4 linked regions of the Homo sapiens genome follow. The protein of the gene in region 1 interacts with the protein of each later gene in a pairwise test. Each region holds a gene or a part of one and is shown in the gene's direction. Other genes may lie near its edges. The genes, in order: LENG8, CAMK2A, PRPS1 and GSE1.

Evidence for each region.
Region 2: the proteins of LENG8 (region 1) and CAMK2A interact in binary tests that used the Homo sapiens proteins (3 or more experiments, as listed by UniProt).
Region 3: the proteins of LENG8 (region 1) and PRPS1 interact in binary tests that used the Homo sapiens proteins (3 or more experiments, as listed by UniProt).
Region 4: the proteins of LENG8 (region 1) and GSE1 interact in binary tests that used the Homo sapiens proteins (3 or more experiments, as listed by UniProt).

What each region holds. Positions count from the first base shown.
Region 1 is NC_000019.10:54,445,142-54,452,308, forward strand, and holds the start of LENG8 (leukocyte receptor cluster member 8), read left to right. Parts: upstream 1-4,057; 5' UTR 4,058-4,169; intron 4,170-4,515; exon of another isoform or gene 4,516-4,603; intron 4,604-6,148; 5' UTR 6,149-6,203; coding exon 6,204-6,241; intron 6,242-6,951; coding exon 6,952-7,126; intron 7,127-7,167.
Region 2 is NC_000005.10:150,286,774-150,294,658, reverse strand, and holds the start of CAMK2A (calcium/calmodulin-dependent protein kinase type II subunit alpha), read left to right. Parts: upstream 1-4,885; 5' UTR 4,886-5,033; coding exon 5,034-5,095; intron 5,096-7,885. UniProt on the Homo sapiens protein: Calcium/calmodulin-dependent protein kinase that functions autonomously after Ca(2+)/calmodulin-binding and autophosphorylation, and is involved in various processes, such as synaptic plasticity, neurotransmitter release and long-term potentiation.
Region 3 is NC_000023.11:107,638,385-107,645,509, forward strand, and holds part of PRPS1 (ribose-phosphate pyrophosphokinase 1), read left to right. Parts: intron 1-910; coding exon 911-1,094; intron 1,095-2,517; coding exon 2,518-2,616; intron 2,617-3,981; coding exon 3,982-4,106; intron 4,107-6,792; coding exon 6,793-6,966; intron 6,967-7,125. UniProt on the Homo sapiens protein: Catalyzes the synthesis of phosphoribosylpyrophosphate (PRPP) that is essential for nucleotide synthesis.
Region 4 is NC_000016.10:85,651,322-85,658,321, forward strand, and holds part of GSE1 (genetic suppressor element 1), read left to right. Parts: intron 1-2,956; coding exon 2,957-3,129; intron 3,130-3,472; coding exon 3,473-3,670; intron 3,671-4,404; coding exon 4,405-4,596; intron 4,597-5,021; coding exon 5,022-5,344; intron 5,345-5,955; coding exon 5,956-6,283; intron 6,284-7,000.

The sequences.
Region 1 (7,167 bases):
ATACATATATCCTGTTAGTTCTGGCCCTCTGGAGAACCCTAATACAGATGGCAAATAAACACAGGAAAAGATGTTCACCGTATGTCATTAGGGAACCGTCCGTTAAAACAAGACACCACTGGCCGGGCGCGGGGGCTCACACCTGTAATCCCAGCACTTTGGAAGGCCAAGGCAGGTGGATCACGAGGTCAAGAGATCGAGATCATCCTGGCCAACATGGTGAAACCCCGTTTCTACTAAAAATACAAAAATTAGCTGGGCGTGGTGGCGCACGCCTGTAGTCCCAGCTACTCGGGAGGCTGAGGCAGGAGAATCGCTTGAACCCAGGAGGCGGAGGTTGCAGTGAGCCGAGACCATGCCACTGCACTCTAGCCTGGAAGACAGAGTGAGACTCTGTCTCAAAAAAACAAAAAAAAAACAAGACACCACTACATACCTATTAGAATGCCAAATCCAAAATGCTGGCACCACCAAATGCTGGCAGAAATGTGGAGCAACAGAAACCCTTCTTCATTGGTGCTGGCAATGCAGAATGGTACAGCTACTTTGGAGGACAGTGTGGTGGTCTCTCATAATCCTAAACATACTCTTAGAATATGAACCAGCAACACTGCTCCCCAGTATTTACACAGATGGGTTGAAAACTTCTGCCCACAAAGAAATCTGCACGTGCACGTTTATGGCAGCTTTCTTTATCACTGCCAAAAACTTGGAAGGAACCAAGATATCCTTCAATAAATGTCTTACTACATTCTGGTTGTTGTAACAAAATACCATACACTGCGTAGCTGAGGCAGGAGGATCACTTGAGCCTGGGAGGTTGAAGCTGCTGTGGGCTGAGACAGAGATCACATCATTGCACTCCAGCCTGGGTGACAGAATGAGAAACCCTGTCTCAAAAAAAAAAAAAAAGTACAGTTTTGGTTTTTGCTGTGACTGGGCTCCTGGAGTGAGAGCTCTGGATCCCAGCTGCAAGATGAGGAATCTGGAGCCGAGAGAAGGGAAACGAGTTTTCCAAGTCATACGGCTGGTTAAGTAAAAGAGCCGGGATTATGACTTAGGTTTCCTGCCCCCCAAGATTATTATTTTTTGAAACAGAGTTTCGCTCTGTCTCCCAGGCTGGAGTGCAATGGCATGATCTGGGCTCACTGCAACCTCCACCCCCAGGGTTCTAGCGATTCTCCTGCCTCAGCCTCATGAGTAACTGGGATTACAGGCATGCGCCACCATGCCCGGCTAATTTTTCTGTATTTTTAGTAGAGACGGGGTTTCGCCATGTTGGCCAGGCTGGTCTTGAACTCCTGACCTCAGGTGATCCACACGCCTCGGCCTCCCAAAGTGCTAGGATCACACGCATGAGCCACCGCGCCTGGCCTACCCAAGATTATTAAAATAAGTTTTCAGAAGCAACCCCCTACTGGCCAGGCGCAGTGGCTCATGCCTGTAATCCCGGCACTTTGGGAGGCAGAGGCGGGCGGGTCACCTGAGGTCCGGAATTCCAGATACTGTGAAACCCTGTCTTCACTAAAAATACAAAAATTAGCTGGGTGTGGTGGTGCACGCCTGTAAAGAGAATTGCTTGAACCTGGGAGGCAAAGGTTGCAGTGAGCTGAGATCGTGCTACTGCACTCCAGCCTGGGCGACAGAGCCGTCTCAAAAAATAATAATAATAATAGATTTTTTAAGAAAAGCAATCCCCTAGTGACTTCTTAGAGCACATCATCAGACAGTTGGGGTAAAATTCTGAAGTGGATTAAGGGAGGGGTGCTGGTTTGCCTGGATGGCTACATGAACATAGCCCTGGAACCAACCAAATATGTAACTGGACAACAGAAAAATAAGTACAGGGTGCATTAATCAGAGGCAACAATGTTTTGTACTTAAGTACACAGAAGACACGATGTGAAGACACCAAGAGAACAGTACTTTTCATGGTTAGACACATTTCTTAGGTATTTTTTCTACTTTGGGATTCTTTTGTGATATAATTTGTCCTGTTTACATAATTTTTTTCCCTGACATGTAAGATAAATGTATCTAATTGTGGGCTTACTTGTAAAGAGTTTTCACATTTAAGTTCCAGTCATTTCATTTTATCGCTGTATCTGTGTACAGAATGCTAAAGAATAAGACATAAAAAATAAAAGTACAGTTATAAACACCTCTTTTAAAAGGCAGAGACTGTTCGCTTGGGCAAAAAAAAGCAAGATCCAACTACATGCTATCTACAAGAAACCCACCCTAAATACAACAGGTAAAAGGAAGCTAAATGGAACGTGGGTCCTGGCTTGTACCCTGGCATGTAAAGAAAACATTGGAGGAAAAGGTGGTGAAATCCCAGTAAAGTCTGGGTTTTAGTTACAGTAATGCATCATGTCAGTATCTACAACAAACCACTTTTGTTGGTGCTTGTGATGACAGCATCAGAAGAAAGTGGGCATAAAACATGGTGGACTGCTTATGATCTTTGCAACTTTTCTTTTTTTTTTTTTTGAGACAAGAATTTCACTCTTGTTGCCCAGGCTGGAGTGCAATGGTGTAACCTCGGCTCACTGCAACCTTGGCCTCCTGGGTTCAAGCGATTCTCCTGCCTCAGCCTCCCGAGTAGCCGGGATTACAGGTGCACGCGCCACCACGCCCAGCTAATTTCTGTATTTTTAGTAGAGACGGGACTTCACCATGTTGGCCAGGCTGATCTTGAACTCCTGACCCCAGGTGATCCACCCATCTCGGCCTCCCAAAGTGTTGGGATTACAGGCGTGAGCCAGCGCGCCCGGTCTTTGCAACGTTTTGAATAAATCCAAAATTATTCCAGAACAAAAAGCTTAGTACCAAAAAGAAAACAAAAACAAAAACAAAACAAACCCCCCCCCCCCCACAGAGTAAAATAACGGAAAAAGATCTACTATGCTAGCACTAACAAAATAATACGTAGTTATGAAAATGGTATGTATTTTTCAAGCTAGACGTTCATAATGGTAGAACATGAGGAGGAAAACTGCCTCTTAAATCCCACCACTTACTGTGACACAGTGACCGGTCCCTGCAGCGGACTGGATAGTTGTATCAGAGTCCTGGACGGAAACAGATGGCACTCAAAAGGTGGCGCGCAGTTCAGAGAAATGCCTATGTACGGATTTGGTCCAATGCCTCAGCCTGACCTCAGGGACCTTCGGGGGTCTGCTCCGCGCCCACCCTTACACATCTGTGACCCCACACACTTCCACCCCAGCGCCACTGCCAACAGCTACACCCATCCCCCTCCAACCGCGTCAGCTTCCAGCCTCGGTCCATCTGAACTCGCCGTGCCCCCTCCCCTGCGCCCTTCCAGATTCATTTGCTAGGGAAGCCCGCTCTTCCGGGTGGAGCTGTTCCTCATCCCCTTTCTTTATCATTCTCTCCCCAGGGCTTCCACATCACCGTGCTGTGGACAATCCCGGAACTCCTGTCACGCCAGTTTACATTTAGGAACAGTAATGGCTCCCACTGACTCAGTCAAAACAAGGCTGCGGCCGGGCACGGTGGCTCACGCCCGTAATCCCAGCACTTTGGGAAGCCGAGACGGAGGGATCACGAGGTCAGGAGTTCGAGAACAGCCTGGCCGACATGGTGAAACCCCGTCTTTACTAAAAACACAAAAATTAGCCGGGCATAGTGGCGCGCGCCTGTAATCCCAGCTACTCCGGAGGCTGAGGCAGAATTGTTTGAACCCAGGAGGCGGAGGTTGCAGTGAGCAGAGATCACGCCACTGTACTCTATCGTGGGCGACGACAGAGCAAGAGCAAGACTCCGTCTCCGAGAACAACAACAACAGCAACAAGAAAACAACAATAAAAAAAATAAGGCTGCGTGGGAGGCAGAAAGAGCTAATGCGGCCACGCTTGTCTCCTCGGGGCCACCGTCCCCACCCAGACTTCCGGTCTGCCTTAAAATGTTCATGCGTAAGTGCGTGGGCAGGAAGGCGGGCTCAAGCGCAGCTCGTGGCGTTCATTGGCTGTGCAGGGCCGAGGGAGGCGGTGCAAGGCCGCCGCGTGACGTCAGGACGCCGCGGTCAGGACGTCGAAGCCAAAGAAGACCAGAGCCAGCCGGGTGGCACAGCGGTGTCGTGGCCGTGTTGCTGATCGCCTGGGTGGTTGTTGGCGTGTCCCTGCAGCGAAGGATCCTGGTTGGTAAGGGGAGCGGCAGGCGAGCAGGCGGGCGGGGATAGCATCTCCTTTTGGTCTTGCGCCCCGCGAGCCCCGAGGCCTTCTCGGCCGTCGCAGCAGCAGACGCCGCGCGCGAGCGTCGACAGGGTGTGGCGGCGCAGGGGCAGCCACTGCGCCTGCGCACCGGGCCTGGGGCCGCGCGTTCGGGCACTAGCGCGCGTGCGCCGTCGTCTTCTAATTTCCGTTCCTCTCCCTTGGAGTTCTCGGGGCCCCGGGGCGCCCCTCACTCGCCGTTGACCGGGTGTTGCCCCGGGCGACGGGCGGCTCCTGCGCGTCTTTCTGGGGCGTGGTGCGCAGGCGCGGCCTGGGCAGTGGCTCCGTGGCTAGTCGTGGGGATCCGAGCGGCCTCCTCCACCCGGCGTCCTCCTTTGCCTTCGCCCAGCCTGCGGGACGGCCAGGTGCTCCCGGGACCTCAGGCCTCGCGTCTGATGCCTGTCTCTGTTCTTGAGACCCGTCCGGGAGTCCTCTGTCCAGCCCCCAACTCCTGACCTTACCTCTAATCTCCCTTCTGCCCTGGGGCTCCTCTTCCTGTGTCCCCGCCACGATCCCTCGTCTCCACCCACGCCCTGTGTCCTGTTTAAGTTAAGCCTTTGCGTTTCTAGGGCTTTTCCCCAGCTCCAGACTCCCGTTCCTATCCCGTCAACTCGTGGGAATTCCGGTTCTCCTGCGGGATTAATTATCCTACTTATCAGTTACTCCCTCTCGGGAGTTTAGGCTCCTGAATCCTTGCTCCGGAGACACTCCACTTTTCTTCCAATTCTCTCTGTACCCCACTCTTAATTCGTTGAACATGTTTTGGGTCTTCTTTGGCATTCCCAAAGCTTTATGTCCAGACACCCAACCACGGTGATCCCTTTTCTCTCCCAGCCCTACCCCTGCTTCCGGGAACCTCCCGTGGAAGCAGGCAGGGGTAGTCCCACTGAGGACTCCCACGTAGGTCTCTTTACTGCCCTTCGGAGACCTTTTTGAAATCAGTCTGTCAGTGCTAAGAACCCATTTCTTCACGTTGGGGTTCACGTTGGCATTCTCAGGAACGCTCAACGACCACTTGCTTCCAGGGTTAACTTCCGGAAAATCCCCTTTTCCTCTCAAAATTTTCTTCTCTTCTCCAATATTCTTCCAGCCCCCTCGATGCTCCCTGAAAGGCCTCCCTTTTCACAGAGTTCTCGGAAACCTTTCCACCCTCTCAGCCTTAAGGGTTCCCTCAGACTCTTCTCATTATAGCATCCATCCTCTTGGTTCAGGTTCCTTTCACAACCCGTACTCCCTAGCTTTTTTTTTTTTTTTTTTTTTGAGACAGAGTTTCGCTCTTGTTGCCCAGGCTGGAGAGCAATGGCGCAGTCTCAGCTTACCGCCCTCCGCCTCCCGTGTTCAAGCGATTCTCCTGCCTCGGCCTCCCTAGTAGCTGGGATTACAGGCATATGCCACCATGCCCAGCTAATTTGGTATTTTTAGTAGAGACGTGGTTACTCCATGTTGGTTAGGCTGGTCTCGAACTCCCGACCTCAGGTGACCTGCCCGCCTTGGCCTCTCAAAGTGCTGGGATTACAGGCGTGAGCCACCGCGCCTGGCCCCTAGAATTTTTTGTAGACCTTTTCCCCTTGATGGAGGCACCCCTACCCTCTGGACCTTTCATCACAGCCTCTCTTTGCTCACATGGGTTTCAGACCCTTCTCCTTCCCTTTGGGAAGTCTGCTCTGGCTTCCCTGTTTCCAAATCCTTCGTTTTCCACCTGGAGCTCTACAAAGGGGCCAGGGGCTTCCCCTCACTCCAGCCTTTCTAGTCCACACCCAGAACTCTTCAGATCCTTGACCCCAGTGGCTTTTCAGTCAGCCTCCCCTTTTCTGCCCGGCTTCTCTTGAGTCCATCTACTTTTCTTCCCCACTTTGTGACGTGTTTTTAGCTCCCCCTTAAGTCTCCCTAACTCATTCTTTTTCTCATAGACAGTGAAAAAGCAGTCTGGCTCCCGAGGTCCACCCCTTATACCCCAAGGTCCAGATGGCGGCCAACGTGGGTGATCAACGTAGCACAGATTGGTTAGTGAGGCGAGAGGGATGGAGGCCAGTCGGGAGGGAAAGAGGAAGCAAGACCCAGTGCTGTCCTCTGGGGTGGGACCTCCCGTGGCCTTAGGGGAGGTGATGCCACAATCCCTGTGGGTGGGGGTGGTGGTGAGGCAAACACAGAGGGAAGCATTTGGTTGTGGTGTGGAGAGGGGCAAGCTTTCACCTCTCTGAGCTTTCGTTTTTCACAGTACAGCGCTTGCTTTGCAGAATTGTGATGATTCATTCAAGCAAGTGTAATTAGGAGGCAGCTTCCCAACACTCAATACACAGTCATTTATTTGTTTTTCTGCTGATTCCTTATTTTTTCTCAAAATAGTGTGATAACCTGCCGACTGGGGTGATGTCAGACAGAATTCATTGATTCATGAAAGACATAGCCCTAGGAGGTGCCAAGGCCTGTGTTCAGTTCTGTGGGTTCTGTTAATTGTTTTGTTTGTTTGGTTTTAACAACTGCTGTGTGCCAGGCTCTGGGATAAGTACCTTAAGTAGGTGATCTCATTTATCCCTCCCAGCAGACTCTGAAGCAGAAACCCTTTATCAGCATAGTACAGATTAGAAAACTTAGGCTTAGACTGGTAGTAACAGTTAGATATGGGATCCAGGGGCTGGAATTTGCCTCCCAACTTGCCCACCTGTGTACAGTGGGGAGAACAGGTGTGACTTGATGTCCTCTCTCTCTGCAGGTCTTCTCAGTACAGCATGGTGGCTGGGGCAGGCCGAGAGAATGGCATGGAGACGCCGATGCACGAGAACCCGGAGTGGGAGAAGGCCCGTCAGGCCCTGGCCAGCATCAGCAAGTCAGGAGCTGCCGGCGGCTCTGCCAAGTCCAGCAGCAATGGGCCTGTGGCCAGTGCACAGGTGAGAAGGCCTCATGGGGCTGGGGTACCCTGAGCCAGAGG
Region 2 (7,885 bases), on another chromosome or scaffold:
AGTGGAGCCCAGAGATGCCTGGTGAGACCCCCTGTTTCTTCCTTGGCTGCACCAGATGGCAGCTGATCTGCCAGCTGTAGGGGCCAGAGCCAGGGGGCAGCCTGTCCAAGCTGGGCCCTGCCAGTAGAGTCCTGGGCTCTGGTAACCCATTCCCCAAGGGCCAAGTGATAGCCCCACACCTGGATGGAGGGCCAGTGCTCTGGGCTCCATCTTTCTCAGGAGGAAGTGGAGGTTCTACTGGGGAGACCTCCTGCAAGCTCTTCCAGGACTCGAACTCAGGTCCTCTAACTGCAAGGAGTGCTATGCAGCCATCGGCCCAGTAGCCATTGTCCTCTGTCCCATGGCTCTCTGCTTCACTCTCCCCTGCAAGAGTGCCTCCTGTGTGGGAGACCTCAGGGACAGTTCTGCTCCCTGATCCCTGACTTCCCCCACTTCTTCATGTAGGCCTAGCCTTACTTACTGCAATGAATGAACCCAATCTCCCTCCACCCAGACCCTCAGCAGGACCATTTCTCTCTTGGCCCACTTTCCACCAATTCTGCCCCCCATGCTCACTGCCCTTAGTGGGACAGGCCCTGTGGGGACCCTTTGGATGGCACACTTTCTGTGGTGCCTGCCCAGGCCCTGCAGGACCCTGGGGCACTTGGGCATATGTGTGTGGGCTGTGGAAGGTGGGATTTGAGTCAGCTGTCACAATGCCACTGGGGCTACAATCACCCATGCAGGAACCCAGCCCTGGTCACTTTTCATCCCTTCTGTCTCTGTGGAGCACTGCCTGTGTTCACGTGCCAATCCCTATTCTGGCATGTCAGGACTGGGTTCAGCAACCTCCAGGGCTCCCACCCCTGGCGACCAGCCCATAGCATGGAGGCCTGCTCTCGAATACCACACGCGTGTTGCAGATGGGGGCACACGTGCTGCCTCTCGTGTCTGCTTTGGCCCTGGGGAGTGGGGAGTTTGGCAGGAACAGTCCCCCTCCTGCAATCATCGGCTCATTCTCTCAGCGCCACAGAGGCACGGCTGGCTCCTCAGTGCCCGCCACCACCGGGCACAGCTGCTAGCCTCGCGGGCTCAGGGGAGGTGGTGAATTAGCAGTCATGCCTTCTCAGCAGAGTGGCTATTACCCTCAGGAAGGTGGGGGGTGCCTGTCCGAGGCAGTGCCCACACCGCTGAGCTAGGCTCTGGAAGGCTCAGAGGGGTGTGTGTGTGTGCTCATGTGTAAGACTTTCAGAGGGGACTTCTTCCTCTTCTCCCTCCTCTTCTTCTCTCTTCTGCCTCTCCAGCCATCTCTCTGCTATCTGGATCCTGCAGCCCTCAACTTGCCCATCCCCCAGGACCGCATGCACAGTGCAGGCCAGCAGGGGAGGGAGAGAAGAGTGACAGAAAGAGAGGGAGCTGGAAACCAGAAAGGAAGTAAAAAAGATGAGAAAGACGGAGAACTGAGAAGGAAGGATGCAAAAGAGGGAACAGGAAAAATGAGGGAGAGGGGAAGGCAAGAGGAGAGAAGAAAGGAGAGTGGAAAGGAGAGATGGAAGTAGGGAAGAAAGAGATGACAGGAGCGGGGCTGTGCTGGCCCTGCTCCCAGCAGCCACAGAGGCTGCCCCCGTGGTCCACATCACATACAGGGAGAGAGGTGGCCATCTTCCTGCCTCCATTCCTTCACACCTTCCTCTGAGGGACCTGATGCCAGGGTCTTCCCCATGTGCTCTGCTCACTTCTGAGCATGCTCCATTTCATCAGTGGGAATCGGGAGAGGAAACAGGGGTCAGGCCAGCACCCAGCCACGCAGGACTGTCCCAGTTCAGAACATTAGATTTCCATTAATACAGCCTCATAATCTCACAGCATAGTTGCTTTTTTGTTTTACTGTGAATTTTTAAAACAGCATCATCATTCCTTTGGCACCCGATGAGCTGGAGAGCCTTGTGGTTCCTCTCCTTCTAGCTCTAGTTCTTTGTTCTACAGAAATTGCTGCAAACTAGGCTTAGACAAGGTGATTTCCAAACCATGAGCTAAACTCCAGTGCAGACTAAGGGAACAGTGCCCTGAAGTGCTGGGACTCAAGATGATGGTGTGTGCTTCCGTGATTCAGGGAGTGGTGTGTGAGGGGAGAGGACTTTTGAGTTTCTTGATTATAATTTCCCATTTATTGAGCATTTATAGTGTCAGCCACTGTGCTTGTCTCATTTAATCTACAGAACAGCCTGGAGGTAGGGAATATTATTGACCCAATTATGCAGATGAAGACACAGAGGCACGGAGAAGTTAGGATATTCATCCAAAATCACATAGCCCGTAAGTCGTGGAGTCACCCTAACTACTAAGCAACACTGCCTCTCCTGTCCCTGTGCAATGGCAGGTGGCCTTGGTGGTCACTAAGGGCTCTTCCAGCACTTTCTTGTGTGGAAGCCATCCCCTCCTGGGGGACAGGCTAGAGGGTCTGGGACAGGAGGGTGGCAGTGCAGCCCTCCCCCACCTCCCCACATAGGCCTGTAGCTTGGCCACCGTGTTCTGTGCCCTGCCTGCTGCCCACTGGCTGTGCGGCCCCCAGGCATAGGCCTCTCCACTCTGCCTCTGAATTGCAACGTTGGCGGCAGAAGCGGGAAGCATATTGTGCGCAGAAACAAAACTGAGTGGTTTTCCCTTTTCCCAAAGGTGGTAATGGTGCAATTAGTGGCTAAGCCATTACCCCCCTCCTCCCTTGCTCACTTCCCCTCTTCCCCTCTGCCACCCTCCCTCTCCCACCCTCCCTCTCCTCTCCTGGGAACAGCGGCTGAATGGGTGAGCTCACCCTTTATTCTCCCCCACAGCCCACTCCCAGGAAGAAGGGCAGAATGGGAGGGTTATCCAGATGTCTCCAGGGGGCCCCTGCAAGTAGGGTAGTGAGTCAGGGACTTCATGGGGTTGGAGAATACCAACAAGCAGATAACATGTCCTGCAAGTGAGAGGACTAGCAAGGCAATGTGGAGGTTCAGAGCGGGTGGGCTAGAATCCCTGAGGGTCTGGATGCCTGGATCCTTTTATCCAACCCATGCTCGCTGGGGGCAGGTGCTGGCATGAAGCCTCTGCCCATCAAGCTGCGAAATGGGCCAAGGCACCCTTTTTCCTCAGTGGAGAGGGGAAGGGGTATGCAGGGTCTGAGATGCCAAGCCCAAGCTAGAGTGATGGGGTGGTCACGGGCCAGCTTTAAACCTTCATTTTCCTCCTCTAGAGCCTAGAAAGAGGCCTCCTATTTACATAGTTCCCAAAGGCCTTCACAGCCCTTAGCCCACTCCATCTCCACAGCCTTCCCCTGCAGGGCATCTTCATTCCCCTGTTGTGTAGAAAAGGAGCTGGAGGCTCAGAGAGGGTGAGTGACTTGCCCGTGATCACTCAGCTAATAAATGTCCAAAGGCCGGGCATGGTGCCTCACACCTGTAATCCTAGCACTTTGGGAGGCTGAGGCAGGTGGATTGCCTGAGCTCAGGAGTTTGAGACCAGCCTGGGTAACATGGTGAAACCTTGTCTGTACTAAAACACAAAAAATTAGCCAGACGTGGTGGTGTGCGCCTGTAGTCCCAGCTACTTGGGAGGCTGAGGCAGGAGAATCACTTGAACCCAGGAGACGGAGGCTTCAGTGAGCCGAGCTTGCACCACTGTACTCCAGCCTGGGTGACAGAGTAAGACTCTGTCTCCAAAATAAATAAATAAATAAATAAATAATATAAATAATAAATGTCCAGGAATCAGAGCTCAAACTCAGATCCTTAGTCTTAAACTCCAGTCCCTTTTCTTCCTAACTCCAAGACCTTGGAGTAAGATCTTGTGGCTGTAGGTATGGCTGATGCCCTGAAGAGTTGAAGTTGGCAGGGAAGGTGCCCAGAAAATTTTGGATTGAAGATTTCATGGCAAGTCTCTGGCCAGTGGCCTAGCCCGGGTAAGCCATGCTATGCTCACCTCCCCACAGCCCCCTCTCGCCTTTTTTTTTTTTTTTTTTTTTACCTTGACTGGAAGCACAAGCAGAAACTGGGACATGAGCACCAGGAGACCAGATTTCCATGGTCCCGTTGGGGGCATGGGGTTGGGGAGAGGTTGCAGAGGAGGGCTCTGGAGGGGAGCAACTGTCACAGCTGTGAGAGGTGGGGGTGAGCAGGCAGTCAGGGCTGTTCCCTCCAGAATCCTGGGGTGTCCTCTGCACTTCTGCGCCAAGCTGGAGTGCTAGTGTGATGGACAAGGTGGTAAGAGAGCTGAAAGAGCACGAGCATAACAAGAAAGACAGAGGCAGAAGCAAAAAAAAAAAAAAAAAAAAAACAGAGGGCAACAGAGAGACAGTTACAGAGACTACAGTGATCCACAGAGGGAGAGCCATCCCTGTGAATTAGCCATCATTTCCCTGTAAACCTTAGAACCCAGCTGTTGCCAGGGCAACGGGGCAATACCTGTCTCTCTAGAGATGAAGTTGCCAGGGTAACTGCATCCTGTCATTCGTTCCTGGGGACCATCCGGAATGCGGCACCCACTGGCTGTTACCATGGCAACTGCCTTTTTGCCCCACTTAATCCCATCCCGTCTGCTACAAGGGCCCCACAGTTGGAGGTGGGGGAGGTGGGAAGAGAAAAGATCACTTGTGGACAAAGTTTGCTCTATTCCACCTCCTCCAGGCCCTCCTTGGGTCCATCACCCCAGGGGTGCTGGGTCCATCCCACCCCCAGGCCCACACAGGCTTGCAGTATTGTGTGCGGTATGGTCAGGGCGTCCGAGAGCAGGTTTCGCAGTGGAAGGCAGGCAGGTGTTGGGGAGGCAGTTACCGGGGCAACGGGAACAGGGCGTTTTGGAGGTGGTTGCCATGGGGACCTGGATGCTGACGAAGGCTCGCGAGGCTGTGAGCAGCCACAGTGCCCTGCTCAGAAGCCCCGGGCTCGTCAGTCAAACCGGTTCTCTGTTTGCACTCGGCAGCACGGGCAGGCAAGTGGTCCCTAGGTTCGGGAGCAGAGCAGCAGCGCCTCAGTCCTGGTCCCCCAGTCCCAAGCCTCACCTGCCTGCCCAGCGCCAGGATGGCCACCATCACCTGCACCCGCTTCACGGAAGAGTACCAGCTCTTCGAGGAATTGGGCAAGTGAGTTGTGCCTCAGGAAGTCCTGGAAGGCATGGGGGGCGGGGAGGTCAGGGTCTCTAGTGGGGTGTGTGTGCCTGCAGTGCTTGGGGAGCATTCCTTGTACACAGATGAAGGCAGGCTGCATGGGTTTGGGGGCACCTGCCTGTGTACAGAGTGTCCAGAGTCGGGCGTGGGTATGTTTGTGGGTGCACAGATGTGCCAAGCTAGCCAGGCCAGTGTGTATGTAGGGATGAAGGGTTGACAGTGTATGCCAGTGCACACACATACACACAAAATGCACACAAGTACACACAACCTGGATACACACAGATTCTTAGAGACTTAGGGTTAAAAAGGGATTTTCCTAGTCAGCTGGGTCCAAAGCTGGAATTCCTTCTCTAGTTTTGCTTGAGGTGGCCATCCGCCCTCCACTTAGATACCTCCAGTGACAGAGAATTCACCAGCTCCCGGTAGTTCTTCCTGACTTTAGACACCCACAGTGACTGTACAGAGTGGCCAACTTCTCCCTCCCTACCTCCCCTTTCTCAGCTCCTGCCAGGAGTGAGGGCGTCAGTACAGTAGGGGTTAATATCTGAGCATGACAGGCTTCCCGGGTGTTGGGAGGTGGGGAGAGGAAATCAGGAAAGCTGTAGCGGGGAGCACCGCTGTTTCAGGGGCTAGGGTATGAAGGGTGCAGTGGCTCTGGACAAGCAAAGTTGCCCAGCCCAGAGCTCATTTTCTGCCCTGATGACTGCTGTGTAGAGAAGGATGGGAGGATGAGGAAAGAGGGGAGGCCCTTGTGGGTGGCCCAGTAGGGTGTGGAGTGTCAGGGAGGGATTCCTGGATGTCCCCAGCTGGGTTTCTGGAGGATCCTGGGATGGGTCAAGGGTTGGGTGCATTTTGGAGGCAGAGTTTGCCTTGTGGGCAAAGGAGCACCGATGCCCTGGTTGGTTTCTGCTGAGGCAGCAGGAGCACGGGGGGAGGGGCCCTGGAGGCAGGTGTGTATTGGTGTGAGTTCTGAATGTGTGTGTACTAGTGTGCATTTTGAGGAGTGATGTGTGTGGCTGTAGAAGGGCTTTTGAGGGAAATTGCTTGTGACACTGGGGTACGCTGGTGTGCCCTGCCAGGGTGTGCAAGCATTCATGCATGTGCACCAGGAAGAGGTGCTTCGTGTGTAAGGCCTGAAAATGCAAGTGTGCCTTGCAAGGGTGCATGTGTGTGAGTATTACAAGAGTGCTGTTGGCTGGGTTGAATGAGAACAAGGGTGTAAACATGACTCATTAAATGTGCACATGTATGGCAGGTTAGAGCTGTGTGCACATAGGAAGGCACATGTGTGTGAGGTCTAGGGGTGTGTGAGGATGCTCATATGAGATGCGGACACAATGGTGTTCCTGTGAGGTCTTGATATGCACATCTACGTGAAGACTGGGGTCATGCACACAGGATGATGTACGTGTGTGTGCACACGCATGTGTGTGCATGTGTGAGGCCTGGGCTCACAGGGTTATGTGGGAGTATGGGTGTTATAGGCATGTGTGAGCTCATGCTGGTGTCTGCATATGTGTGGGAGGTGGCCCTGTGACTGTATACAGGAAGGCTGCTTGCACACACACACACACACACACACACACACACACACACACAGAGGCTATCCTACAGGCATGCACCACCTCCCTTGAGCACATATACCCCCATGTGTACGTGTGTTCACTCTTATCTGCAGACTTTCAGCTTTTCTGAATGTGCTTTTTTTGCGGGTAGGGGCAGGAACAAAATGTTTGGGGCTGCTCTGGAGGACTGAGGCTGTCTACAAACTTGTGCAGGGACCCCTCTCCAGGTGTTTTCCAGTGCTCGCCTAGAACCCAAGAATTCCCTGATTAGCCATGAAGCTGCCTTTCAGGGAGTGACCAAGACTGGGTCCTGGCAGGACTGCGTCATGAGTACAGTGAGATGGAGTTGAGATGTGACTCAAGTGCTCAAAGTGAAAATAAAAGTGATGTTTTGCCCCAAGAGGAGATGGATATCATTAAGACTGGGTTTTGTGGGGGCAACTTGGTAGAGAGACCCTTCGTGAGCCTTCACAGAGAATTTCAGGGGCAAGGGAGCCCTGGTGTGGCCATGGCAGGAAAACCGAGGGTAGCAGGCATAGCTAGGCCTTGTTTAATCAATTTCAGACTTCTTCCTTCCAGAACCATCAGACTGCTCTTAACCTTTTTTAGGTCACATATTCCTTCAGGAATCTGATGAAAGTCTAAATCTACGTTCCCCAGAAAAACGCACAAACCTACGAAATGTTGCATGCAATGTCAGGAGCTTGCAGGGACATCGGGAAGACTGTGTATGAGCCTAAGTTTGCAGAAGCTTGTGTTAGAGACAAGGGGATAAAGTGGACTGATTCCGCACCCCTGATGTCTGTGTTAAAAAGTCCAGACCACATCATTGAGGAGCCTGGGGCTCCTGCTCTCCACAGCAGCTTCAGTCTGAGCATCCAGTGGTGCAGGGAGGGGCAGTGCCCTGCGTAGCCACTAGGGACACAGGCGCTGTCCCTCATCACCCATAGCTCTGTGACACCAGGCAGGCTATGCTACCTCTTTACCCCCACCTGTAGTCTGGAGATAAAAAGGGCTGTGAGCATTCAATGAGATGGTGCATGTAGAGATGCAGCCTCGAGCCTGGCACATGACAGGCCCCCAGGGCCGATTGCTACTGGGGTGACTGTTGTTGTTCTCAAAGGCTGGGCAAGGCTGAAAGTGAGGAATGGGATCTGCTTGTACCTTTTGTCTGGAGTTGGCCCATCCGGGGCTGGGA
Region 3 (7,125 bases), on another chromosome or scaffold:
AGGTGTGAGCCACCACACCCTGACTAATTTTTTTATTTTTAGTAGAAACGGGTTTCACCATGTTGACTAGGCTGGTCTTGAACTCCTGACCTCAGGTGATCCGCCCACCTCAGCCTCCCAAAGTGCTGGGATTATAGGCGTGAGCCATCACGCCCGGCCATATGAAATAATCTATGCACATGTTCCCTTATACTTTATTGTTATTTATTTATTTTTTGTAGAGATGGGGTCTCACTGTATTACCCAGGCTGGTTTTGAACTCCTGGGCTCAAATGATCCTCCTTCTACCCTGCCCCCTGCTCCCCAAAGTGCTGAGCCACCATGCCAGGCCCTCCCATATATTTTATTTTATTTTATTTTATTTTTGACACAGAGTCTCACTCTGTTGCCCAGGCTGGAGTGCAGTGGTGTGATCTTAGCTCACTGCAACCTCCGCCTCCTGAGTTCCAGCGATTCTCGTGCCTCAGCCTCCTGAGTAGGTGGGACTACAGGCGCCTGCCACCATGCCCTTCTAATTTTTGTATTTTTAGTAGAGATACATGGTTTCGCCATGTTGGCCAGGCTGGTCTCGAACTCCTGACTTCAAGTGATCCACCCACCTTGGCCTGCCAAAGTGCTGGGATTATAGGCATGAGCCACTGCGCCCAGCCCTGCCATATACTTTAAATCATCTCTAGATTACTTATAATACTTAATACAATATAAATACTACGTAAATAGTTGTTATACTGTATTTAGAAAATAATGACAAAGAAAAAAATCTGTACATGTTCAATACAGGTGCAATTTTTTCTCCAAATATTTTCAATCCACACTTGGTTGAATCCATAGATGTGGAACCTATGGATATGGAGGGCTGACAGTACAGTGGTTTAAAATCTATTTCATGTTCTTTCTTTCCTCATTGTAGTGTGGAAATTGGTGAAAGTGTACGTGGAGAGGATGTCTACATTGTTCAGAGTGGTTGTGGCGAAATCAATGACAATTTAATGGAGCTTTTGATCATGATTAATGCCTGCAAGATTGCTTCAGCCAGCCGGGTTACTGCAGTCATCCCATGCTTCCCTTATGCCCGGCAGGATAAGAAAGATAAGGTAGGAGCAGAATTTTATTTTTTGAGCAGAGGAAGCAGGAGCACTTGCCCCAAATCACAAATAAATTCCAAAATTATCAAATATATATTTAGGGGGAATTTTAAAAATCACCTTTTCTTAGGTATTACCCTATCTTCAAAACAATAGAAATATAATTGGTTTGTATAAAGCAACACATTTGTAGTCTGTATTTTATTACAGTGATACATATATAACTTTCAGTTAGCTCACTGGTATTTTTAATTGTATCAGTAAGACTAAGCACCAACTCCTCTGGAGTACTGGAGTATATTTTTAAAATTACGGTAGATCCTCTCAAACTGTAAGATTGGGATCCTAGTTGTGACCTCTTCATAAAACTTGAAGTCTGTTATATGAATACTTGATCTGATAGATACATAGATAGATAGATAGATAGATAAACTATATATATCTCTCACCTTATCCTGGTATATTAGAGGATAAGGCATATACATAAAACTTTGCAAGTCTATTGTAATTAATGCCCAATTTTACACACAATGCCTCGAAGAAGGTCAGATATTTTTATTCCAACAGAGTATAAAGTAAAGGGCATGGGCCGGGTGCGGTGGCTCACGCCTGCAATCCTAGCACTTTGGGAGGCCGAGGCGGGAGGATTGCCTGAGCTCAGGAGTTTTGAGACCAGCCTGGGCAACGCTGTGAAACTCCGTCTCTACTAAAATACAAAAGAAATTATCCAGGCGTGGCGCTGCGCGCCTGTAGTCCCAGCTACTCGGGAGGCAGAGGCAGGAGAATTGCTTGAACCCAGGAGGCAGAGGTTGCAGTGAGCTGAGATCATGCCACTGCACTCCAGCCTGGGCGATAGAGCAAGACTCTGTCTCTACAAAAAAAAAAAAAAAAAAAAAGGCATGCATGGACTTTGCTATTTTACAGTGCAGCAAGTATGTTTTATTTGAGGAGTTCATAGTTGTTGGAAAGTTGACCTCCAGATGAGTAAGTAGTGATGTGATTTACAAAGGAAACTATAATATCTATTCTGTGATGTATCTTCAAACCTTGACATGTTAGGTGTTAAAGGTTTACATATGTATGTGTTGAAAGAGATTTTAATAAAATTATTTTTTAAAGTCTGCCTAGTTTGAATAATTGAGCATTGGAAACACTTGAATAGGATTGAAAATGTGTACATTAAGAAAACAAAAGTTAGGAAAGCATTTTCTTTATTGATAAGTGTATCCTGATTTGGAAAAGTGATGTTCCACTTAATATTTGTTCTGAATTATGATCCACTTAAAGTCAATGGACATGTCTCCTTCTATGAATTTCTGGGTACCATAGTGCCTTTAACATAGTAGGTACACAATAAATAGTTTCTTGAGTAAATGAATTGTTTTTCAAATTGGCTTTTTGGTTTTTCTTTTCTTTCCTCCCCTCCATTTAGAGCCGGGCGCCAATCTCAGCCAAGCTTGTTGCAAATATGCTATCTGTAGCAGGTGCAGATCATATTATCACCATGGACCTACATGCTTCTCAAATTCAGGTATCAGTGGAAGCTAAATATTGGTGTTTGAAAGGTGGGAGGAAAGGACTGATGATGCTGAAGACTGCAGAGAAGCCAAAAATTATGCCCAAGTACATCTGAAATAAACTAGATATCAACAACATTTTAAATGTGTTCACCTTAAGCATACTTCATGATCTTAGTCATTTCAGGTGGTTAGATAGGGAGGCAGTCTAGTTTTATGGGAAGAGCACTACTTTGAATAAAGGCTCTGGTATTTACTAGCTTTGTAAGCTTGGGAAGGTTACTTAATTTCTCTGAACATATACTTTTTCATTATTGTGAGTATAAAACATTAAATTCATATTATAATGCCTGGCCCATGACAGGTACTCATAGATAGGAGCTGTTATTATCATTCTTATTCTCCTTGAATATTCATGGAGTGCAGTGGCACGATCTTGGCTCACTGCAACCTCTGCCTCCTCAGTTCAAGCAGTTCTCCTGCCTCGGCCTCCCAAGTAGCTGGGATTACAGGCACCTGACACCAGGCCCAGCTAACTTTTTTGTACTTTTAGTTGAGATGGGGTTTCACCATGTTGGCCAGGCTGGTCTCGAACTCCTGACCTCAAGTGATCTGCCTGCTGCAGCCTCCCAAAGTGCTGCGATTACAAGCATGAGCCACCGTGCCTGGCCTCATGGTCTTAAATTTAGAGCCACAGATATTGGAGCCTACTTTCCAACATAAACCCAAAGTAAGGGGGGTGGAATACCACCTTTATTTTATATTTTTTCAAAGAGATTTTTCAAATCATTACATTTCAAGCTTGTGGGAATTCAATGAAGTACATTGGACAGGGACTGTACTCCTTTTATGGAAAGGAATGACTTAATTGAGAAATACAACTAATTTGTATCAACTAGAATTAGAACACAGATCTCCTGATTTCTAATTATTCACTGTGACTATTTATCATAAGTAGCTTCCATTAAGTTTATATGCCATAGCATCTCTAACTGGTTTATCCATTAGCTTTTACTCCTTAACAAATCAGTCCAACACTTAGTGGCATAAAGCAGTATTTACAAACTCACTGAGTCTGCATGTTGACTGGGCAGTTCTTAATGGTTTTGTCTGAACTTAGCCATTCTTTACAAGGGCTCACTTATGTTCCTATGTTCAGTTGTGGGTTGACTGAGGGCTGGCTTTGCTGATCTTGGCTGGGCTCTCTCACATAGCCCAGATTCAAGGAGGCTTTTATAATCTACCACACTGGGCCTGCCTTCCCATCAGTTTGAATGTTGCAGTAAGACATTCTCTGAGCAAGTTACTACTTTGTGTTTGCCATTTATAAATGGAAGAGAAGGAAAGTGAAGCAAAACTGATCCAGCTTCTTTCTACAGGGCTTTTTTGATATCCCAGTAGACAATTTGTATGCAGAGCCGGCTGTCCTAAAGTGGATAAGGGAGAATATCTCTGAGTGGAGGAACTGCACTATTGTCTCACCTGATGCTGGTGGAGCTAAGAGGTATGGTTGAAATTAGTATTGTTCCCAATGTACTGGGAAAATCTTTCAGATGGTTGTGTCACAAAGTGAAGTTTTTCTATCCAAGTGGCAGTTTTTAAGTATTTTTGAATGGATGTAAGTAGCTAGCACATGGGTTGAATATAGTTTTACCCTTTCCTCTTTTACTGTCCTCAGTTACTACTCGGAAGACAAGACAGAAAAGGGGTCCTAAATCATCATATTATGGATTTGACTATAACTTATGAGTAACTTGGTGCTACAGAGCTAGCAATACAGCTATAAACCTTTTGGGAAGGGTAGAAAATGTGGTTTTCTAATGAATAGCAGCTGCTATTGAACCACATATTGGTGGACAAATTCGCTTTTACACTCCTCTTACAATGCTGTTGGTTAGATCATTTTGATCCTTGGGATTAAAATATTAAGCAGGAAGGAAAGTAAAGTGTGACATTTTTATTTAAAGCCAAGATCTTAACATTTTAAACAAACTGATTGCCAGGGATTGCCAGTTAACAGTGCTTTGCAGCTCACATGGTGCAGACTAAGAGCTCTTGATTTCCTTAGTGGATTACTCGTTAGTAATGCATTCAAAAGTGTGACACATGTTCTTCTTGTTGTGGAAATAGAATGAAGAGCTACAAAACACAGATGATTAGGAAGAGCTAATTCAGAACTTTCTAAAAGCCATTCAAATCTTCAATGACTGTTTCTCAACAACCTCTTTTATTTCAGTAACTTCAACAGAACTGATAAGCTGAGAACTTGAGTTATGTTATCCAGCCAGATATATGGGTTGGTGAGTCCCATGTAATTGCTAGTTACCATCTGTAATGCTAGAGACAGCCTAAGAAACATCCCCCCAACTAGTAGTTGTCATATTTAATTTGTCGGTCATTATTTTAATATCTTTCTGTGGGACTTAGAAAATAGTCACATTTGAAATAGGCAGGATTTTCTTTCCAAAGGTGGGTATAGGAAAACTGCCTTTAGTAGACAACTTATTGCTACCTGATTTTTTTTTCATTATCATTGTCTTATAGTGATGGAGTATTTTACAATTGAGTGTCTATCACTTCTGTGTTGGCAGGGTTTGGGGAGTAGGTAGAGATCCCTGTGTGATATTCATTTGTACAGTAGTTCTCTCCTCAAAAGGTGTAGAGAGTTACTTTTTCTAGCCCTTTTTATGCTTTGTTGGTCACTGAATTTGTTGGCCTTTGAGTATGGTTGGTTTGGGATACTTGAACTAATTGATCATGCATTTGCCTTGGGTAAGTAATCATTCCAAGCGAATTGGTTACCACTGATGTTATGTGCTTATGCAGTAGTAGTAATGGAGAGTACAGGGTATGGTTGGTTTAGATCAAGGTACAAATGTTACCTAGATTATGGTTCAAACCTTATTATGTGGTCACAGGTTCTCACTTATCCAGCAAAAACTCATGTGACCATAGTCACAAGAGAAACAGGACAAAATGCTATAGTTTGTTCAGTTCTACATTAAAAAACAGGACAAATCCCCAAGCACGGGCTGCTTCACACATGACGGAGATGGCACAGCGGAGCATGGACAGACGTGCCACTGGGGCAGCTCACTGTCATTTACACTGAATAGATTTTTGTTTGAATTATGTGGTACTTTGTCAAAAGACAAATTTGTCTTCTATCCTACCTTCTAGTCTGGTTTATTTTCTCTTGTAATAAGAAAAATAAGAATTCTCTTTGATTGGAAGATACTTTGGACCGAATGGTGAGATGCCTAGCTTGTCTGGGTAATTGATATAACTTTCTGTCTAGCAATTGTGAAAAAAACTCCCAAGCTTGGTGTCCAGGTACAGTTGACAGTGACAGTTGATGGATGTTTTGCCAACAGCACTGAGGGAAGTGATGAGGACACAGGCATTGGAACAGGCTGGATGCTGCTCCTCTCCTGCCAGTCAGGTTCTCTTCTCACCACATCCCCATTCACGGGTCTTCCATGATGGGAATTGGGACAGTCTGTGTACTCCTGGCATTAGTTAATTCTTTCCTCATTCCTTCTGCTGCCAATCCATTAAATAAACTTGCGTGTCTTAGCGTTATACTGCTTCCCAGTACTGGTGAGGGTGTCTGTCCTCTACCCAGAATGAATACTCATCTAAGTTTGATCAGTACGTTCATAAGCTTCTGTTGAGCTATGGAGGCACTGGTTTATAAAACCCAGTTTGTGATATTTGCCTTTGAGAAGTCAATGATAGTTGCTTTCATTCTTCCAGCCCTGGGAACTATTGGTTTCAAGGAGTATTCTCCTCCCCAAAACAAGCCCATTCTTTAGTCCATTTCTTTTTTTCTTTTTTTTTTGTTTTGAGACAGAGTCTCGCTCTGTCACCCAGGCTGGAGTGCAGTGGCGCGATCTCAGCTCACTGCAAGCTCCAGCTCCTGGGTTCACGCCATTTTCCTGCCTCAGCCTCCCGAGTAGCTGGGACTACAGGCGCCCGCCACCATGCCCAGCTAATTTTTTGTATTTTTAGTAAAGATGGGGTTTCACTGTGTTAGCCAGGATGGTCTCTATCTCCTGACCTTGTGATCCGCCCACCTCAGCCTCCCAAAGTGCTGGGATTACAGGCGTGAGCCACCGCCCCCGGCCTCTTTAGTCCATTTCTTTTGTCTTAGAAGCCACACATACATATGAACACGCTCTGTTTTGCAGAGTGACCTCCATTGCAGACAGGCTGAATGTGGACTTTGCCTTGATTCACAAAGAACGGAAGAAGGCCAATGAAGTGGACCGCATGGTGCTTGTGGGAGATGTGAAGGATCGGGTGGCCATCCTTGTGGATGACATGGCTGACACTTGTGGCACAATCTGCCATGCAGCTGACAAGTAAGTGTGGATTGATGGGGCTGGTAGTTAGAAGGAAAAAGCTAGCAATTGCTGTCTGAATGTCTTCAGCCTGCTGATTCCTTTTGGAACCAAATTGAGGGGATAAGTAACTTTGTGAGATTTTTATCACCCAAGGCTTAAATTATAATACATAGAAAT
Region 4 (7,000 bases), on another chromosome or scaffold:
CAGGGTTGGCCGGGCGCCAGCCAGACGGAAGCCACAGACATGTGGGTCTGGCTCGCCGGGCCCCTGCCCCGCCTGCTGGCTGCCCCCCAGCCCCCCGGACTCCCTGTTTGTCCTCAGCCAGGCCAGGAAGGTGCCATCTGGCCTGCGAGCAGGGCTTTGTCCTCGGCTGAGGGGAGAAGGGGTTCAAGGGCCGTGTCTGGGCTGGGGACAGGCCCCTCCTTGTGGCGGGGCGGCTGGGGCCCTGTGCTTTGCCGTTTGACCCGGCCCACGGCGCGGGCAGCATGCGGAGGAGGGCGGCAGGCCTGGGCTGTTGGTAGTTTGACCCTGGGTGCTGTCCTCAGGTCGAGGTCTGTCCTCCAGCCCTCTTCTGACTCTGGCCACCCAAGGCTGGGTGATGATTGAAGCCCCTGGCTGTCGTCTCCCTCCTGCCCTGGAGGCCTCCCCACCAGCCTGGGAGGGGGAGTCCAGGTACCCCGGGTGCCTGAGCAGGCGAGGCCCCTGTTCTGGGCATCCAGAGACCCACTAGCTTTAGGCCTGGTGTTCATTGGGGTGCTACTTGGATGCTGGGGGGCCAGGGGCCACTCCGTCTTGTTAAGTCCATCCCAGACCCTAGGAACAGGGTGTGTCCTTCCTCGTGCTCCGTTCCTCAGATGTTTGGCCCTATGCCAGGCAGGGTAGGGGCGTGAGGCAGGATCTAGAAGCCCAGCCTGGAAATAGCCTCACGGGGCTGGGGTAGGCAGGCCAGCCTGGCAACACACCTGCCATGTCCGGGCCCCCACCCTGCTGGTGCGTCCCCCACATGCCCGTGCACAGCTGTGCCATCAACTCTGCTGCCCTGTGAGTCCCCCGCATGCCCGTTCATAGCCGTGCCATCAACTCTGCTGTCCTCTGAGCAGGTGCCGTGACGGGCACATGCCATTGATGTGTGCACGAGGCACGACAGGATGGCCAGGTCTCCCAAGGTCAGGTTGGCCCCTCGGCCACTCCCCCACTACCCCGGTTGCTGACACCGGCTGGAGACCCCAAGGCCAGGCGCTGGCTCCTCAATAGGAAGTTCCCGGCCCCACGCAGGGCGTCAGTGCCCATGTGTACCTCCCACCCTCGAGACCAGCACCCTGGAGAGGCAGGTCAGAAGTCGTGAACCCAGGAGGACCCTACAGAGAAGGGGGGCCGGGGCTCAGCCCGCGGGAAGGGAGCAGATGCTGCCTCTCATTGAAGATTCCAGGCGGCGGCGGCGGCGGCGGCTCCTCCAGTTAATCCTCGCTGACTGTCTCCTGGAGGGTGGAGAGAGGGGAGGCGCCGGCCCGGGCTGCCTGCACTGCCTCTGCGCGGGTGCCATGTGCTGCTGCCGGGTCACCGTCTGCCGCTATGAAGATGGATGGGCCCAGGAAGAGGGGCTGGCGGGTCAGGGACACAGGCACGGCCCCTGGGAGACAGATGCTTCTCCACGGTGGGGCAGGTCTCAGAGCCCCTGGGCCATCATTCCTGCTGATCTTGTGGGGAGACGGCCATGGCCTCCTTGTTTTTTGGGTGTTTGGCATTTCGTGGCTCAGGGAGGCAGAGCGGGGCTGGTGCTCTTCAGGAGCACTGCCCGCTGATCAGCAGTCGTTACCTGACATGGCCAGATGGAACGTGAGGAAGGGCCGGGTTCCCGTGGCTCTGCATCCCTGGGAAGCTCAGAGGGGCCAGCGTGGCCATGGCTCTCAGACACCCCCAGGTCAGGGTAGGCCTGGGCAGTGCTGTCCCCACATGGGGAAGATGCTGGGGCTGAGAACGGCTGCCCCAGTGACAGAGTGACGCCTGGGTTGGCAGCCATCCAGAGTCCAGAGCACAGCCCCCATCTGGGCCGCCCTGAGGCTCCCTCCGCCCCCCTCCTCCCCCCTCCTCCCCCCTCCCCCTCCTCCTCCTCCTCCCCCCTCCTCCTCCTCCTCCTCCTACCCCCTCCTCCTCCTCCTCCTCCTCCTACCCCCTCCTCCTCCTCCTACCCCCTCCTCCTCCTCCTCCCACTTAGTCACACGAATAACAGGAACAAGCAAGGCCTTTTCATGCTCTGGTTTCTCCGGGCTGGACCCTGCGTGTGTGCGGGGCAGCCTCTGCGTGGCTAGGGGTGGCACGGCCTATCCTTGAACTTGGCAGGGACCTCAGCCCGGAAGGTGGGCTTTGGGCCACTGCCTCCTCCTGCTTTGTGCCTGGAGAAGACCCCTCATCTGAGTCCTCTGGACCACCTTCCCAGCTACACCCAGGTCCACTGTGTCCAGGAGCCTGGGACAGGCGAGCTGTTGCCTTCCCTGCCCCACCGTGTGTGTGAAGGCCGGTACCCCAGCTGGCCAGTCAGGGCCCAGCTGCTGCCTGTTCTGGTGGGCTCCAGGGCCAGGGCCACCCCAGGAGGTGGTTGGGGGCAGACCAGCACCTTCGGCCCAGGGGCAGTGCCAGCTTCCTTTGCCCCTGCCCTCCACGTGGGCACCAGGGCCAGGACATCTGCGGCCAGGTGGGCAGCTGTCGGCGCAGTTGACGTCTTGGCTACATCGTGGCACTCGCTTCACGGCGTGCTGGGTGCCAACGGTGTCTGCTTCCCCGGGTGTGTGTCTGGTGTGACCTTCGGATGTCCACACCAGGAGGGGTGGAGGCAGGAGCCCCTGCCACCCTGCATCCTTCACCTGCACACATTGTGTTTCTGGGGGGTTCTAGTTCTTTTGCTGGACTGAGGAGGCCCAGGGAGGGAGACGGATCCCGAGACGCACTTCACCCCAGACCTGTCGCAGCCACATCCCCTTTCTTACGGTTCTGCTTCCCACACCACATGCACCATGTTTTGCGTAGAAAGCCTTAGGGAAAGGATGTTTCTAGAACATGAACTAAATCTAGCGCCTTCCCGTGAGTCAGGAGACCTGGCTGTGTCCTGTGGTCAGTGGCCTATACCAGGCTCCTGCCCTGACTGGACGCTCTCCTCCCGCAGGATGCCGGCTCCAGGAGCAGCAGTGGAGGTCGGGAACGCCTCATTGTGGAGCCCCCGCTCCCTCAGGAGAAGGCAGGGGGACCAGCCATCCCCTCGCACCTGCTCAGCACCCCCTACCCCTTCGGCCTCTCCCCCAGCTCAGTTGTGCAGGATTCCCGCTTCCCGCCACTCAAGTAAGTTGGTCGGCGGGGACTTCGGTGAGGTGGCCAGGTGGGGACACAGTGCTCAGGGTCTGGGTCCCCAGGCAGCCTGCGGTCTGCACAGATGAGGCTGTGCCTGCTAGATGGTTGTCGGCCGCTGAGCCCTGGGGATTGCAGCCCTGTCTGTGCCCCTTCACACTGAGGTGGCAGTGGCAGCTCGCTCCCCCCGCTGCTTAAGCCCCGTCCTCGTTCGGGGTGCCAGGAGTCTGGGTGCCGACTGAGCGCCAGGGGTGATGCAGGGAGTTTAGCCGTCCCCCCATGCAGGAGCAGGTGTGCACTCACCTGTCCCCACCTTGCCCACTATCCCCGCCTGCAGCCTCCAGCGGCCCGTGCACCACGTGGTGCCCCCCAGTACCGTGACCGAGGACTACCTGAGAAGCTTCCGGCCCTACCACACCACCGACGACCTCCGCATGTCCTCACTGCCTCCCCTCGGCCTGGACCCGGCCACTGCTGCAGCCTACTACCACCCCAGCTACCTGGCCCCACACCCCTTCCCCCACCCGGCCTTCAGGTGAGGCATCCCCCACGCGCCCTCTCGTCTAGGTGCTGGCCTGTTCCTGGCAAGATGGAACCTGGCGGGGAAGGTGTTTCTTATGACCTGAGAGCCAGGCTCCTAGGGGAGGGTCTAGAGTAGCCCCTGAAATCGTCCCCAGCTTTGAGCCTAAATTCAGCCCTGATGGCCCATTAGGGGTCCCCTCCTGGTAGACAGTCCCCCTTGGTGACTGTACTGTCATCCTTGGCTCCTCCCCTTCTCACCGGGGGGTCCATTGACAGCAAGTCACTGTTAAGAGAGCAGGGCTTTGCCCGTGGGAGAGGCGATGCTTTGCTGTGTAGCAGGAGACCTCGGTGGCACTGTGGTCTGGCCTGGGTCCGTGGAGAAGCTCTGCCCATCCTTGTCAGAGGTCAGAGGGGCCTGTAGTCATGTCATGGACCACCCCACGTCAGGGCAGCCCAGCCTGCTCGCCAGCCTTGGAAGGGCCTGGGCGCTTGACCACTCTGTGCTGGTCTGGCTGAGCCGAGGGAGGTGGCAGGCGGCGCCCTGGAACCCCAAGCTGTCGGCACCTAGCAGCCTCCGGCATCAAGGGGCTTTGGGGCTAGCAGCAGGCATGGTCTTCATCCCCAGCCATTTTGTCACGTTCCCCACGCTCAGGCAGGTGTGTGTACCTGGCTGAGACACACCTGTCGACAGGGCTGGGTCTTCCCCTTGGTTCATTTGCTGCTCACAGCCCCGTCTTCTCTGCACAGGATGGACGACTCCTACTGCCTGTCTGCCCTGAGGTCCCCGTTCTACCCCATCCCCACCCCCGGCTCCCTGCCCCCACTGCACCCATCAGCGATGCACCTGCACCTCTCTGGGGTCCGCTACCCTCCCGAGCTCTCCCACTCATCCCTGGCAGCGCTGCACTCGGAGCGCATGTCTGGCCTCAGCGCGGAGAGGTAAGTGCGTCTCGAGCCGAGGAGCCCCTCTGCCCTCCCTGTCCCTTGATGGCAGCTGGGCAGAAAGCCTGGGCTGGAACCTGACTGGACTCCTTGGCCATGCCTGTCCTCACAGTTTGTCCACCTGCCAAATGGGACAATGATCGTTCAGGCTCTGCTCTGAAATAGCGCCTGTCTCGGTAGCCGTGGTCTCCTGCAGTAAACCTGCAGGCCGAGGAGCTCTCGGGCGTGCTTGGGCATTTTGTAAGCCGCTTTGATTGTATGGACCTTAAGTTCTTCCTGCACCAGTGAAACCCGGCTCACCTCCCGTCACTGTTCAGATTAGCGCCCTGGCTCGTTCCTGGTTATGCTTTTTAAGGGCCTGCCCCAGGTCCGTCTCTTGTTCCTGGTGCAGCAGAGCCCCCAACTCTTTCCATGTGCTGCAGGCTGCAGATGGACGAGGAGCTAAGGCGGGAGAGGGAGCGCGAGCGCGAGCGCGAGCGTGAGCGTGAGGCTGACCGCGAGCGGGAGAAGGAACGTGAGCGCGAACGCGAGAAGGAGCGCGAGCAAGAGAAGGAGCGTGAGCGTGAGAAGGAGCGCGAGCGCGAGCTGGAGCGCCAGCGGGAGCAGCGGGCCCGGGAGAAGGAGCTGCTGGCCGCCAAGGCCCTGGAGCCCAGCTTCCTGCCCGTGGCCGAGCTGCATGGGCTGCGTGGCCATGCCACTGAGGAGCGGGGCAAGCCCTCGGAGCAGCTGACCCCAACCCGAGCAGGTACCTGGGCGTGGGTGGGCTGTGCTGGGCAAGGTCTCAGCCACCCGCGGGGAGGAGCCCTGAATCGCAGCACCTGCCGGTTGCCGTGGTGTAAATGTTCCCCAGCTGAGTTCGCCCTAAAAGCGTGGTGTGGCTGAACATGGAGTAGGGAGCAGAGGCACGTTGGCACACGATGTAGACACAGTGGATATAGCTGACCCCAGGAGGACAGTTGTGAAATGTAGCCGGGGCATTAGGAAGGGATGTTTTGAGTGCTTCGTTGATTTTATTTCTCTGTAAGTTTACGAAACAATTGTCCAGTAATAACAACCAGCTTTTGCATGTTTCCCGGAAATTTAATAGTCTGCTCTTTGAGCCAGCATGAGCTGGCTCTGGCACCGCACTGGCTGGGCAAGAGTTTTGCCAGCCAGCCACGGAGCGTTTCCTTCCAGGGACAAGACATGCTTCTTGAAAGCTCCCGTAGGGCCCCTTCTGAATATCTTGGTTCTGGCTGCGGGAAGAACCCTTTGGAAGGGCTCTGGTTTCTCTGGGCAGTTGGGTGAGAGAGGACGGGGAGGGAGCATGCTGGCCCACGTGGCTGAGATCCTGCTTGACCGTGTTTCCCCCCACAGAGAAGCTGAAGGATGCCGGCCTGCAGGCGCCCAAGCCCGTCCAACACCCCTTGCATCCGGTGCCCACCCCACACCACACGGTGCCCAGCCTCATCTCCAACCATGGCATCTTCTCTCTGCCTAGCAGCAGTGCTGCCACAGCCCTGCTGATCCAGCGCACCAATGAGGAGGAGAAGTGGCTGGCGCGGCAGCGGCGGCTGCGGCAGGAGAAGGAGGACCGGCAGTCTCAGGTGTCCGAGTTCCGGCAGCAGGTGCTGGAGCAGCACCTGGATATGGGCCGGCCCCCGGTGCCGGCGGAGGCAGAGCACAGGCCGGAGAGCACCACCAGGTGAGTGAGCCCCAGGAAGGAAGGAGGGATGAGCCTTCACGTTCCGATTTGTTCAGCGTGTATTGAGCACCTCCTGTTTGCCCAACATCCTGCCCCAGCGTTTCTGCCTGCCTCTTTCATTTCTGTTCTTTCATCTTCACGTTATAATGCCTGTCTTGCCTATGGGGAAGCTGAGACTGAGGAAGAAAATGGATTGCTCAAAGGTATCCCCACCAGTAAGTAAAGAGACCAATCAAGTCCATGTTGAGAGCCAGGGCACTGCACACGCAGCCTGACCTAGTTCCCAGGAGGCCATTCACAGCAGATGAAGAGTGCAAGGTAGAAGCTTTAATTACTAATAATACCTGTTCTCTCCATCTTCCTCTGCTTTTGAGCCTGGACTTCTTTTTTTAACAAGAAGGGGACAGCTTTTGATTTTAAGGAAAAAAATGAGTTTTATTGCTTTTGTATTAATAGTAAAAACACATGCCCGTTTTCTAGCCCTTTATGAAAGCATTTCCCAGGAAACTGTGTGGTGGTCCCTTGGACCCCGGCTGCAGACACAGGTCTTATGAGCTGGGCCCCAGTGCCCCCAGTCCTCCCTGCCCCTGCCTGCCCTGGGATTCCTGCCTTGGGGCTGTGCTGGTCCCAGGCCCCCACGTCATATACCCCCAGGGCTCACTCTGAAGGGCTGAGCTAAGATCCTCAGCCAGAGTTGGTGGGAATGACCTGCCAGCC